Linked DNA regions of Homo sapiens: region 2 is linked to region 1. The links come from fine-mapping of genetic effects on gene expression. Tissue or cell type: whole blood. Region 1 holds a variant in brackets; the other region holds the start of a gene. All regions are shown on one strand. Distances are between the middles of the regions.

What was found. PIP is the estimated chance that this variant, and not a neighbour inherited with it, causes the effect.
Region 2: it holds the start of TRERF1, and the variant in region 1 is fine-mapped to the expression of TRERF1 in whole blood (TOPMed, PIP above 0.99).

The regions. Positions count from the first base shown.
Region 1 is chr6:42,377,331-42,380,086 of GRCh38, reverse strand. All of the region lies in intron 2 of TRERF1 (transcriptional regulating factor 1), which reads left to right. Among named protein-coding and RNA genes, the nearest start is that of TRERF1, 73 kb to the left of the region's middle. The variant G/A (reference allele first, on the strand shown) is at 1,271.
Region 2 is chr6:42,450,380-42,453,135 of GRCh38, reverse strand. TRERF1 (transcriptional regulating factor 1) reads left to right here and starts at 1,210. Exons shown (of 18, transcript NM_001395490.1): 1 at 1,210-1,462; 2 at 1,875-1,959. LOC124900214 (arf-GAP with GTPase, ANK repeat and PH domain-containing protein 2-like) reads right to left here and starts at 776. Exons shown (of 4, transcript XM_047419627.1): 1 at 1-776. The coding sequence starts at 315. It overlaps LOC107986596 (a long non-coding RNA gene), which reads right to left and starts at 776. Exons shown (of 5, transcript NR_171668.1): 1 at 511-776. RefSeq lists silencers at 1-195, 666-745.

The DNA of each region.
Region 1 (2,756 bases):
GCTGACTCCACTCTTCCCCCAGAGACCTCTGCCCCAACCGTCGTAGATAAAATGCCCTCCTTCCTCACCATTCTCGATCCCTCTCCTCCTGTATTCCTTTTCTCTAGAGCCTTTATCACCGTCTGGCATGGCATATAGATATTTATTTAACTCTTTCTTTGTCTCCTCCCTGTGGAACGTAAACACCAAAACTTGTTCTGTTTTGTTCACTACTCTGTCCCCAGAACCTACAACATGCCTGGCACAGGCTGGGCGTGATGGCTCACACCTGTAATCCCATGTCATCCCAGCACTTTGGGAAGCCAAAGTGGGTGGATCGCTTGGGCTCAGGATTTCAAGACCAGCATGGGCAACATGGCGAAACTCTGTCTCTACCAAAAATACAAAAATTATCCAAGTGTGGTAGCACACGCCTGTGGTCCCAGCTGCTTGGGAGGCTGAGGTGGGAGGATTGTTGATGCCTGGAAAGTCAAGGCTGCAGTGAGCTGTGATTGCGCCACTGCACTCCAGCCTGGGTGACAGAGCGAAACTCTGTCAAGTAAATAAATAAATAATACATGCCTGACATATAGTAAGTGCCCAGTATCTATCTGTTGAAAGAAGGAAGGGAGCAAAGGTGGGAGGGAGGGGAGGAAGGAAAGATAAACACAAATGGAAATGAAAGGCCTCCAGGCCCTTGGTTTTAAGGATGGTTTGATTTGGTTAGTCTCCTCTATAGGAAAAGGACACAGTGGGCTGGGGTGGTGGAGACTCCATTGCTTTCCATTGGCCATGTGGATCCATCTCTTTGGCATGGTAGGCTGGCAACATTTCCTGAGCTCCATTCATCCTGCGTGGCCCTTGTACCTACCATGCCTAGACTCCCTTTTCTGGCAAGGAAAAGACAGGTACTAGAAGATGAGCTGAGGACCCAGGGAAAGACTGTGGGGGGTGGTACACACAAAATATATTAAAAAAATTTTTTTTTGAGACAAGCCCTCACTCTGTCACCCAGGCTGGAGTGCAGTGGTGCCATCACGGCTTACTGCAGACTCTACCTGCTGGGCTCAATTGATCCTCCCACCTCAGCCTCCTGCGTAGCTTGGGACTACAGGTGCATGCCACCATGCCTGCCTATTTTTTTTTAAATTTTTAGTAGAGACAGTGTCTTACTATGTTGTCCAGGCTAGTCTTGAACTCCTGGACTCAAGCAATCTGCCTGCCTTGGCCTCCCAAAGTGCTGGGATTAGAGGTATGAGCCACCGGCCCAGCCTACAATATATAAATTTTG[G/A]TTGTGTTCATAAAATTGGGAGGTTGGGAGGGGAAGCTGAAAGCTCCCAGGTTTAGGTCCTGCCCCTTTTTTGTGGGTAGCCTTGGACAGTTACTTCCCCTCTCTCAGCCTCAGCTTCCTCATGTATAAAATAAGAATTGGACTAGGCATCGACTCTCCTAGGGATCCATGCAGATGGGCTTCGGGGGTCTTTGCCTCTGACAGACAAGGGCCAGTGATCTAGGTTGTTCCCAAGGTCCCTTCTAGTACTGAAATCCATGTAGACCTCTGCATTTGAAATTCTGCCCTCTTTGGATTGAATATCAGCTTTTTGATGAAACCATGACTTTCTTGATATGCTGAAAATAAAGGTGACAGTTTAAAAAAGTAAATATTTAAAAAGTTTTCTCAGTGCCGGTTACTTTAGTAAATGTGGGTTTTTTTTTTTTCTTTTTTCTTCTTGGTCTCAACCTATAAGCAATCACAAGATCAAACAAGTTTCAGTTTGAGTTCCCTCTGCTTGACAGTCTGAGCCTGTATCGCCTCGACTTATCAAGTTTGCTTTCAGCTAGTCTGGCTGTTTTGGGGAGGCCTTATCAGCCAAGTGTTCAGCCCTCAGCGTAGGAAGATATGGTCTTGGGCTTTCTTTGGAAGCTGGTACCCCTCATCCGCTTATCTCCACCTCCCTTCAACCCCTCACCTGCCCCTCAACCTGGCCAATGAGCTGTTATAACACAGCAGTAATAGTCCCACTAGCTTTGGGAAGATCACCAAATTCTTCCCCCTTCCCAATCCCTTGCCTCTTACCCAGAACTAGTTACATAATTTACTGAGCTCAGTGCAAATGAAAATGTGAGGCCTCTTGATTAAAAATCATTAAGACTTTCAAGATGGTGACAAGAGCACCTTCAGCAAGCATGGGGTCCTGTGAGACCGCACGGGCTGCATGTTCCTAAAGCCAGTGCTGCCCTTGCCACTTCCATCTTAGGTTACCAGGACCAACCATGGAGATGTATATAACACAATTTGAGAGGCACTGAACATTCCCTCGGAAGGAATTTGAGTTATTTCTATCATGGCCTGTGAGATTCAGGGCTGCTATCCTGAGCCACTGTGCGTTTGGAAAATCCGTACAACTGGGTAGGGAGGGTTTGGACAGTGCCCATGAGTCCTGGTAGAAGGGGCAGAGAAGGATGATTTATAAATGTTCATACTGCCCAAGCAGCCCCACGGATGCTGACAGCATCATTTGTTCTGTCCTTTACAAAGTATTTTCATGGATAAATGAAATGTGTTATATCCATACAATGGAATGTTATTCATCCATAAAAGCAGTTGGAGTACTGATACATGCTACAACATGGATGAACCTTGAAGACATTATGCTGAGTGAAAGAAGCCAGTCACAAAAGGCCATATGGTGTACAATCCCATTTATAGGAAATGTCCGGAATGGGCAAATCTGTAGAGATAGAAAGCAGCTGTCAGGAGAAGAGAGGAAAAGAGA
Region 2 (2,756 bases), 73 kb before region 1:
GCGCGCGCGGCGGCTGCACCCGCGCCCCCTCTCCTCCCCTCCCCTCCGCCGCCCGGCCCCTCTCCTAGGCAACCCCCCTCCCCGGCCTGCTGCGCCTGCCGCGGCAAGGGAGACCCCTCCCCAGAGAGCTGCTCTTCCAGCGCGGTCTACTGCACCCCTTCCCCGCCCCCATCGGGGCGGAGGGATGGAGACGCGCGCTTCGCGAACCTCCAGCCCCTTCTCCGGAGCCCCAGCCCTCTCCCAGCCCCACCGAGGCCAGGGTGCGGTGGGGGTAGGCGCGGACCGTCTCCTCGCAGCCCGCCTCGACCTCGGCATCTTTGCAAACACTTAGAAAAATAAACAAACCCCCTCACAAACCCCAGTCGTTAGCTTGCAAAGCGTGTTACAATAACCGGGACGGCTACGCAGGAAGCAATCCTGCACTGGTCCGGGTTTAAGGCGGCAGCTTCCCGGCCACGCTGCCTTCTCCCCGGCCTCGATTTTCCGGCCATGCCGGAGGGTCCGCTGCACCTCAGGGCTGACAGGTCCCGCTCGCGCAGGGCCGCAACTGGGCCCGTGTCCCCCGTCCCATCCTCGTCCAGAGACTCGCCAGCCTACAAAAGGTGCAACCTCACGCACACGCAAAGCGCACAAATAAAGTCAGCAGCGCACCGCCGCGAAGGCTGCGAACAATGCGCCGGGCGGCCCGCGCCCGCCGTAGCGCTGCGCCCCGGGGGAAAGGGGACGCGGGCGGGGGCCGAGGCGGACGACCAGCCGGTCGCGGCGCTGGACACCTTACTTCCTGCTTCCCCGCCCGCGGCCAGACCCAGCTCTGCGGAGGGATATCTCCCCTCCTCGGTCCCTCTCCCTCCCTTCCCCCTCCCTTCCCCCGCCCTCCCCCTCTTTTTGCTCCTGCTCCCCCCCCCCACCCCGCCTTTCTCCTTTTGCAAGAAAATAATTTGACAGTCGATTTGCTGACAAGGGAGGAATTTGCATCCTGGATTTAAAAAAAAAAAAAAGGCCGAGAGGAGCTTGGGAACGGTTGCTAGGGGTGGGTAATGGGTGAAAAAAGGGGGGTACCGGGGAGCGGATAAGGAGGGTTAAGGGAGGGGGCGAGGATGGGGAGCAATGCAAAGGTAAGGCCAGGTTACCGCGGCTCGGCCCCGAGTGGGCTGCGACCGGGGGAGGGGCGAGAGATACATATGTATTTCTGTCTCCCCAGCACACCCCCTTCCCTCTAAGCGATGGCTGAGAGGCGGTGCATGCAGATGGGGAGTAAGTTTCCTGAAGGGGAGGGTGGATGCACGCGCGCAGCCCGGCGCTGCAAATTTCCACTGGGGAGGGAGAACGGCTGGATGCGGAGAGTTTGGAGTTGCTTGCGGCGGAGGGCAGGAAGGGGAGCAGGGCTGGGAAAGGGGGCTGGCGGGCGCTATATCTGGGAGTAAGTTTCCAGCATCAGGAGAGCCTGCACGCTTGCTCACTAGTAAGTTTCTGGCCGGGGAGGGCGCATGGGGAGGAGGAGAGGGAGGGGTGCATGTATATAGAAGGGGGGAGGGGGGAGCAGATTTCCTGCGGGGAGGCTGAATGCATATGGAGAGTAGATTTCCTGAAGGGAGGGTGGAGGCGTAGACGGACCGAGTAAGTTTCTTGCTGGGGTGGTGGAGGAGGTGGTGGGTTGGTGCTTTGGAAACCCAAAGCTTCCTACCCTGGGTGGGGGAGCACACTCTTGTCGGGGGGACGAGGGGCCAGGTTCCCTGCTGGGGAGAGGGGCTTGCATCTGGGGAGTATGTTTCCTGGCGGAGCGATATTTGTTTACAGGCTGAGGGCAGTACAGTAAGTGAGTAGCGCTGAGAGAAGGCGGCTGACATAAATTAATATTGAAATTACTCCATCAGCTCTGCTCGCCCCCCATCTCACCCCCCAAGCGGATACTGGTCTTCTCGTCGGATTGCCCATGCACTTGTTGCAGAAACAGCCAAGGTAGGCAAGAAGCTTATTAAGTTTCATTTTTAAAAAATTAGTTTGGGGATGCTCCTCGAGAAGACGGGGGTGGGGCGAAGTGGGGAGGGAAGAGTGGGGAGACAGAAGGAGAAGTCTCCCCCCCCTTTACTTTCACTATGCAAGCAGGCCTTCTCCCTTCTTCCCTTCTTCCCTCTCCGGGCTGCACAGCATCCCAGCAAAGGGGGAGGGATGAGGTGGGCGCTATAATTGGCAACCCTGGCTTAAAGGTAGTGATGGTGGGCTTGCATTTGAGGTTGTGATGTTATAAAGGCTTCATTCTCCAGCTAAGAAACCGCAGGACTCTGCCTTTTGGGGTTTTTGACATGATACATATGTGTATGTATACGCGCCTGCGGGCTCTGTGGGGGCTGGGTACTCCCCAGAAGTTAGTGTGGCCACCCAGATGGGAGAAATGTGTAAGGGGGTAAACCTGTTCCTTCACTCCCCAACTTCAGTTTGGGAGACTGGGAAGTTACTGCCGGTGGTCTTAAGAAACAGATATTAAAAACCAACCAAACCACTCCTTCACCAGCGGAGGCCGAGAGCACCTGGCAGGCAGCCTCTGGCCAGCACTGGACTGGAGCATGTGCGCCTGCCATCCTTAGGTTACAAGAAAACGCTTTCTGGTTCCTCCGTGTGTCTTCTACCGGCCTGTTAGAGCCAGCTTTGTGGAAACTCTTCCCCAGACTAGACGCAGCTTTGGCAAGTGCCAGTACTGAAGGGGATGGCTTCAATTCAGCATGGCCTGGGCTGTCTTGTGAGTGCGTGGAAGTCGT